Homo sapiens: one gene and its partner. The protein of the gene in region 1 interacts with the protein of each later gene in a biochemical or structural test. Each region holds a gene or a part of one and is shown on either strand. Other genes may lie near its edges.

Evidence for each region.
Region 2: the proteins of HTR6 (region 1) and NOVA1 form a complex in vitro, tested with the Homo sapiens proteins (one study listed by BioGRID).

Annotation. Positions count from the first base shown.
Region 1 is NC_000001.11:19,667,711-19,671,622, forward strand, and holds part of HTR6 (5-hydroxytryptamine receptor 6), read left to right. Parts: intron 1-3,912. UniProt on the Homo sapiens protein: G-protein coupled receptor for 5-hydroxytryptamine (serotonin), a biogenic hormone that functions as a neurotransmitter, a hormone and a mitogen. Also has a high affinity for tricyclic psychotropic drugs.
Region 2 is NC_000014.9:26,596,067-26,599,978, reverse strand, and holds the start of NOVA1 (RNA-binding protein Nova-1), read left to right. Parts: upstream 1-1,945; 5' UTR 1,946-2,542; coding exon 2,543-2,678; intron 2,679-2,896; exon of another isoform or gene 2,897-3,381; coding exon of another isoform or gene 3,382-3,406; intron 3,407-3,881; exon of another isoform or gene 3,882-3,912. UniProt on the Homo sapiens protein: Functions to regulate alternative splicing in neurons by binding pre-mRNA in a sequence-specific manner to activate exon inclusion or exclusion. It binds specifically to the sequences 5'-YCAY-3' and regulates splicing in only a subset of regulated exons.

The DNA of each region.
Region 1 (3,912 bases):
GGTAGGTGCTCTTAGCTCAAGGCCTTGCATTGTCTATAAGTGAGTGCCTGCTCTTGCCATCCAGGCCACAGTGCACCTGACTCCTATTGACCCCCTGGAGGGGTGGGTGTGTAGACCGACCAGGCCTGAGACCCAGTGACTTAGGTCGCAGGTCTTGAGGAAAGTCCCAGCTGGGCTCTTTTGGTGTAGCCCTGAGTGGTGAAAGCTCTAGGAGGGTGGGGGTTGCATTGGAGGTCACTGGGCACATGGGGACTTGGCAGAGGGGTGAAAGGCTAACACCCTCCTTGGCAGTCCCCCAGACAAGCTTGCCTGTCCCACCCAGGTGGGTGAGGCCCAAAGTTGCCCCTGCCTATCACCTGGGGTGGGGGCAGGGCCCCACATGGACTGGGAGTCCTGGCTGCCGCCCAGCTCCTTCTCCCTATCCCTGCTCCCTGTAGAACATTCTTGAGTCTTGGCAGGTGGCTGGGACTCTGACTTGCTTCTTCAGGGGTGGGATGGCTGCCTTAGGCCATATACCCTGGGTTCTTGCTTTTTGTTGTTGTTATTGTTGTTTTTTAAGAGACAGGGTCTTGCTCTGTCACCCAGGCTGGAGGGCTGGAATGTAGTGGCGTGATTATAGCTCACTGCAGCTTAGAATTGATCATAGCTCATTCCAGCCTGAAGAGCTGGTATGCACTGGCCCGATCATAACTCACTGAACTCTTGGGCTCAAGCGATCCTCCTGTCTTGGCCTCCCAAAGTGCTAGGGTTACAGGCTTCCCTGGGTTCTTGAAAAGGAGTGTTTCACAAGCTTCAGGCATTCAAGAACTGCCTGCGGATATCTTCCTTAATGCCTCTTCCACCACCACCTCCACACCTTAAGCCACTTAATTCACATGCACTTGGCATTTTATTTATTTATTTATTAGACACAGGGTCTCACTATATTGCCCAGGCTGGCCTCGAGCTCCCACTTCAGCCTCCCGAGTAGCTGGAATTGCAGGTGCATGCCCCCGTGCCTGGCATTCTTGACATTTTCTTTAAATCATCTCTTTTATATTTTTACTTCCACAAATTTGTGTAGAAAGAAAACTTCGTATCTCCTCTAGAAATGGAAAATCTGTATCCTTTGCCATAAATAGAAGGTGATCACAAACACCACTTCAGTGAAACTGAAGAAGCTCCAGCCCTATCACTGAAATGCAGCTTGGTGTGGTTGAGGTGATGAGCCTAGGGCCTGCTTTCTCTTTGTAGCGTGCTAGAAGGTATTACAAACATGGTAGCATCAACGTGGGACTTTCTCTTGACGCACCTAGAAGAGCTGGAAGACAGCTGTAATGGGCTGACGTGCTCACTCTGTGATTCACTCATTTTATGGGGTGTCCCTTTACCATCTAAAATCATCTCCATTCCCACAGTTCAGGAAGCTCTGCTCTCGTGACTAAGGATGTGAGAAGTTGGCTGGTCTGGGTGAGGTTGGGGCGGGAGAGATCAGGATTCCTAGTTGCAGCGGTGCCAGTACCACACAGATTTTCTTTCCATGAATCTCGCTGGCTGGTACTAGGATTGAACCTGAGTCTGTGGTCTTGGAACCTGGGCAGGAGTCTCCCAGGTGCTAACAGCTGCAGCCCCACAATCTGTGAGCACTCACTCTGTACCAGGCACTGAGCTAAACTTATTAATTCCCCAAACACCCAATGAGTCAAGTACTACCAGCACCCCTGTTAGACAGGTGGGGAAACTGAGGCTCAGAGCGAGAGGTGACTTGCCCAAGATTGCACAGTTGGTAAGTGAGGTTTAAGCTCGGATCTGGCTGGTGCCATCGCCCTGTGCTGGTGTGCTGCCTGTGGGCAGTGATGCTCTTGAAATGCTTTGCTCGGGGACCCCACACCTTGCCCCTTTTCTTCTCTGTGCCTTCTGGTCTTCTCTGTTGGGTCCTCCTGATCCGCCTGAGCCATGGCATCCCTAGTCCTCAGTCCTCGGAGCATCTCGTCCTTTTTCCACATTTGCCCCGTTAGTGACCTCATCTTGTCTCGTAACTGAAAATACCACCCACACGCTGATGACTTCCTACCTGGGCTGCTTACAGGCACGTGCTGCCACGCCCAGCTAATTTTTGTATTTTTAGTAGAGACAGGGTTTCACCATGTTGGCCAGGCTGGTCTCGAACTCCTGACCTTACGTGATCTGCTAGCCTCGGCCTCCCAAAGTGCTGGGATTACAGGCGTGAGCCACTGCGCCTGGCCCTGACTTCCTGATTCCGCTCTTCCTCCCTTTCAACCTTCCGCAGTGGCCCCAATGATCCCCTTTACAATGCAGTTCCTGCTGCATCATTCCTCTGCTCTGGCAGCCTTGTGTCTCACATCACCTGGCCCTCTGACCCTATCTGGCCTCCTCTCCTTCTATAATCCTGCTTGTTTCTTCTCTTTCAGCCATACTGGCCTCCTTGCTGTTCCTTGAACACACCAAGCCCATTCTGCCTCACTTGCGGTTCCTTCTGCTTGGAGTGCCCTTTCTTCAGGTCTCCACCCTGTTCTCCCACTAATTTCCATCATTTCCTTCCAGCCTCTGTTGAATTGCCTCCCCTAATCCCTCTCTCAAGAGTAGCACCTCTCACCCTCCCCAGGTCCTCTCCAGTCCTCATTTCCTAAGTTATTTCTCTCAGCAGCACCTCCTACCCCCTGACGTGTTCTATACCTACCCATTTTTATTTATTTACTGTTTATTTCCTTCTTCTAGAATTTAGGCCTATGAGGGTGGGGAACTTGTTTTTCTGCCTTTTTTTTTTTTTTTGAGACAGAGTCTCACTTTCTCGCCCAGGCTGGAGTGCAGTGGCGTGATCTTGGCCCACTGCAACCTCCGCTTCCCAGGTTCAAGCAATTCTCCTGCCTCAGCCTCCGGAGTAGCTGGGCTATAGGTGCACATCGCCACACCGGGCTAATTTTTTGTATTTTAGTAGAGATGGGGTTTCACTGTGTTGCCCAGGCTGGTCTTGAAACCCTGAGCTCAGGCAATCCACCCGCCTTGGCTTTCCAAAGTGCTAGGATTACAGGCGTGAGCTACCATGCCTGGCCTGTCTTTCTGTTTTCCCCCATGGTCCCAGGAATTAGGGGCACCTGGCACATCATGGGTGCTCAGTATGTATTGATGGAAGGAATGCAGTGTACACAGTGCTTCAGGGAGCCTGGTATTCCAGCCCTGTTTGTGCGGTTGCCTGTTTTCTCATGCCTTTCAGAGTCACTTCTTGAGTGTCATGATCCTGAACTTTTTATCGTGTGAATTCATTTGCTTGGTGACATGTATTGACACCTGCTTTGCACAGCAGCTGTTCTAGGCTGTGTATGTAGTGGTGAACGAGACCAACAGTGCCTGCCCTCTTGAAATCTGTTCTAGTTAGGAGTACAGACATTAATCATCAAACTGTACCACGATGAGGATTATGGAGCTTATAGGAGGGATGCTTCACCCAGCAAACATTCAAAATCTATTATTCACTGTGTATGTTTGAAGATGAAAGCAAAGCACTCACACCAAGCCCTAAAGTGAAAGGCTGGAGGGGTCTTCATGGGTTGGTTAGGCCAGCGCCTTACTTCTAAGGCAGAGTGACTCAGGGGCCTCTCAAGCCAGAAATGTGTCTGTTCTAATCCCCCCGCTTTCTGGAAAGCCCATTCTCTTGGTTTGAACGTGACGTGTGCAAATTCTGCCTCTGTTCCTGCTTTCAAATCCACTCGGCTCCTTAAGTAAGCCTCCTGCAGGCCGTTTTCCTGATTGCCTGGTGAACGGCCTGCACTTTGGGAAAATGCATCTGAGAAATTGCATTGGCCCTCCTGGGTCACCGCCTCTTTCTTCCCACCAGAGCTGGCCTGGAGGTGGAGGCCCCCTCAATGTTTGGACCTAAAGGAAGTGATGAGAATGAATCAGATGTGGGTGTCT
Region 2 (3,912 bases), on another chromosome or scaffold:
GCATTCCTTGCTATTGCCTATTTAATCTATCAGGAATTAAATTTTATTCTATTCACTTTGGTTATTGCCTAGATATGCATATATTCTTGGTTAGAATATCATAATTACAGTGAAGTTCCTTCTTATGCTTAGTATGAAAGCCATCTTTTTGGCTGAATTGTTGTAGTGGAAAGTATAGGGAAGGAATAACTTCATTCTACAAATCTAGTGAATATGTTTATACCTTTGTACAGCTTAGAATACATTGCCACAGTCTCTCTCGTTTGACTCCCAATAATGGTGGAAATTGGTTGGAGTCTCAGTCTCTGTTTTGAGTGGGAGGGAATCCGGAGCTCTAATGTATTACAATACTTAAGACAGCAGCCTTTGCAGTCACGAAGACCTGAGTTTGAAATTACTACAATGTTTATAACTGCGTAACTTTGGGTAAATTTCTAATATCTTTAAACCTAAACTACCTCATAAAATGGGGACAGTAATAACTACACGACATACTGCATGTAATTGACACAGCATGCAAAGTGGATTGTTTGCCACGTGGTAAGTAAGCCCTTAATAAATGGCAAGACGTTAAGGGATTTGCCCAAGATACACTTGTAAAACAGCCTACAAGGACCAGAAACCAAGGAAGATTTCAGACTCCGAATCCCATGCTTTTCTACTACCCTGCTTCCTAGAACACTGAGTTAATTAAACTACTAATTTGATGAACGACCTTGAGCAAAATACTTCACTGAGTCAGTTTACTCATCTGTAAAATGAGGGACTTGATTTAGATAATGCCTAACGTCCTTTCAGAGTCTATTCCAGCTACATTAGATGTTTTATCCGGTGTTGCAGGGTTGACGTTCAGGTCCGTGATATGTCCAAGATCTGTATAATCATAAGCCGTGCACATGGCAATGAATTTTATTCCGACACTCGTATTTCGTTCAATATTTAGTTCTGTGTGCACACTCAGCTGTTGCCTGTCTTTAGTCTGCCTACCAGCGCCTTGTGAAGGGAAGACCCACACCTAGCTTTATTTATTTATATCCTGGCTTGTTCCCGAAAGGATTTAAGGCGGCGAGTGACACTCTAAGTCCCCTAACGGTGTCACACAGTGCGATTAAGAAATCCTCTTTGGATGAAATCATACCGTAGAAAATCGCCGATGAGTGAGATGCTAACTAATTAATGTCTTTTACCCAACTCTTAAAAATAAAAACTAATGCACCTAGCAAGAAGTCCTGGAAGCATACAGTGCTGGCTCTCCCTCCAGCTCTGACGCTGTCCCACCCGTTGTCAACGGTCACTCGAATGCCCTTCTTAGACTAGCCAAAATTGTCGCCGCTCCAGTACCAGCTGGACCAAGATCCCACCCCACCCCTTCGCTGCCCCTCATCACCCAAGTTTCCTGATTGGGAAGGGGCCCGAAGAACCTTTCTCACATTTCTATTTTATTGGCTGGCACGGCTGTCAGTAATCTCTCCTTCCCGCCTTCTAGCCTAGCGCGTTTCGTGGACCCCTTGGTTTCTGCGACAAGCCGCTTACGTTTGCCTGAGCCGTGTTGCCGGGGACCAGCGACCTTTCACCCCTCCCTTCCCACAGGAGCGCCCCGGCCCCCGCCCCCGCCCCAACCGCCGGCGCGCGTCCTCACCGCGCACGCGCTCCCCTCGCGCGCGCACACGCTCGCGCACACACGCTCCCTCGCCCCCGCCCGCGGAGTTCCCCCTCACCCCTCAGCCGCCCCGCCGGCTGAAGCATCGGCGCTGGGAGGCGGCGGCGCTGCTGAGAGGCAGGGACCCGAGCGCGAAGTGTGTGGGAGTCTACGAACTCAACCCCTCTCTACCCTCCCCTCACAGCCACCCCCCTCCCTCCCCGCCAGCCCCCCCCAACAAGCGGGAGAAATAATGAGCGAGACCGGGCGGCAGCAGCAGCAGCGCCGAGCAGCCCAGGCAACGGCAGAACCGCTCCGGCAGCGGCGGCGGCGGCAGCACCAGCAGCGGGAGCGAGCGCAACGCTAGCGCGGCGCGGGGACCGCCGCGCTCCTTCCCGGCTCCTGCCCTCCTCTGCCGCTCGCTCCTCTCTCGGCATCCACCTCCTTCCCCTCCTCCTGCTCATTCACTCTTTCCCTCACTCTCCCCTCCTCCTCGGCTTCTCCCCGCGCCCCGCCAGCCCTCGCGCTCTCCCACTCCCTCTGCCTGTCCTCCCCGGTCCCCTCCTCCCGCTCATTCACTCGCCCCTCTCCCTTCTCCACTCTCTCCCCCTGTCTCCTTTCTTCTTCTTCTTTCACCCTCCGTCTCTCACACCCCCTCCATTCCCCTGTCTCCTTTCTGACACTGCACTGCAGCTGCTCCTCAGCCCTGCCCCCTCCCCAGTGAGAACAAACCAGCAACATTGCTTTTTTTCCTAAAGAGATTTATATTGATCCGATTAAAAAAAAAAAACCTTAAGAAACCCCAAACGCAAAAAAAAAAAAAAAAAAAAAAGAAAAAAGAAAAGAAAAAGCCAAAACAAAAGGGAGAACCTTCTCCCGGTAGCAGCGGCAGGAACTGCAAACATGATGGCGGCAGCTCCCATCCAGCAGAACGGGACCCACACTGGGGTTCCCATAGACCTGGACCCGCCGGACTCGCGGAAAAGGCCGCTGGAAGCCCCCCCTGAAGCCGGCAGCACCAAGAGGACCAATACGGGCGGTGGGTATCGCTTCCACCTCCCCGCTGGCCCCATCCCCCGCCGCCCGCCCCTGCCTCCCTCCCTCGCCGTCCTCCCTCCCTCCTTCCCTCCCTCCCTCCCGCGGCCCGGACACCTCCAGCCCGAACCCGGCGGCCCCTGCGCCCCTGCCCCGCGCCCCCTCCCCTGCACCTGCCCCGCGCCTAGGTGTCCCCGACACATTTCCATTTCTGTGTTTATCATTCATCAAAATGGCGACCAGTTTTTCGGAATAGACCTATCTTTCCATTTAATCGGTCCAGAGGTTGACCATGTAAATATCCTAGACCTGGGCAAGAAGGTCCATTCAGGAGGAGGAGGAGGATGACCCCGGAGTGAGGTGATGGCCGCCCGAAGATGCGCGCTGCGTTTAACAGTCTGATAAAATAAATAAATAAATGGCACTTGGGTAGCGGATTGCGAATGACTGGGGCGCCGGAGAGTTTTTCCTCTCTCCATCCTCTTGCTTTGGGCCACAAGTAGTATGCAAAATCTTGATGAGTGCATGCCCTTACCGCACTTAGATTGTCGGTGCAAATATTTCATTGATTTGTCTTCAGGGGGGTGCATACGAGGGTGGGGGTGTCTGGAACGGTGACTTGTTAGTTAACATCCTGCGCTTCCTTGGAAGATGAGTTTTAACGGGACCGATATCGCTTCTTCATTTGCACTGGAATCATCTTAACAATGCACCCAATGCATCGAAGCAGAGGTGAATTTATCTCCAGCATATGCATTGTAGACGGATGGGGGTCTTTTGAGTGGCACACCACAACATTTGGAACATTCATTCACATTAAGAAAGCTGGATTTACCGGGGTGTCTCCTGTATAAGATGTGATCAAGTTGACGGAAATTAAAGTTTGTGGAGTTGGCTTAATTTTCTAAAACGTTTCATTTTATTTTTCCTGGTTCTTCCACCCCCTTTCCGTTTTAAAAGTTGTGATTATTTTGGGAAAGGAACATTACCTGTTTTGTCACTTTTAAGCCTATTTAATATAAATGACTCCTAAGCTTTTTAGTATTGGCAGAATTCTTCTTAAGGTCCTTTAATTAATGAGCTTAAACGAGATCACGGTAGACTAAGAAGTGCTAAAGAAATGCACTAGGATTAGTTAGATTTGCCAGTCCACCACACTGAGTTATTTCCTGGCAGTTATTGAAGACTTGGAATACACCCCACAGTTTGGGTGGATTATTTGGTAGGAGAATGGTTGT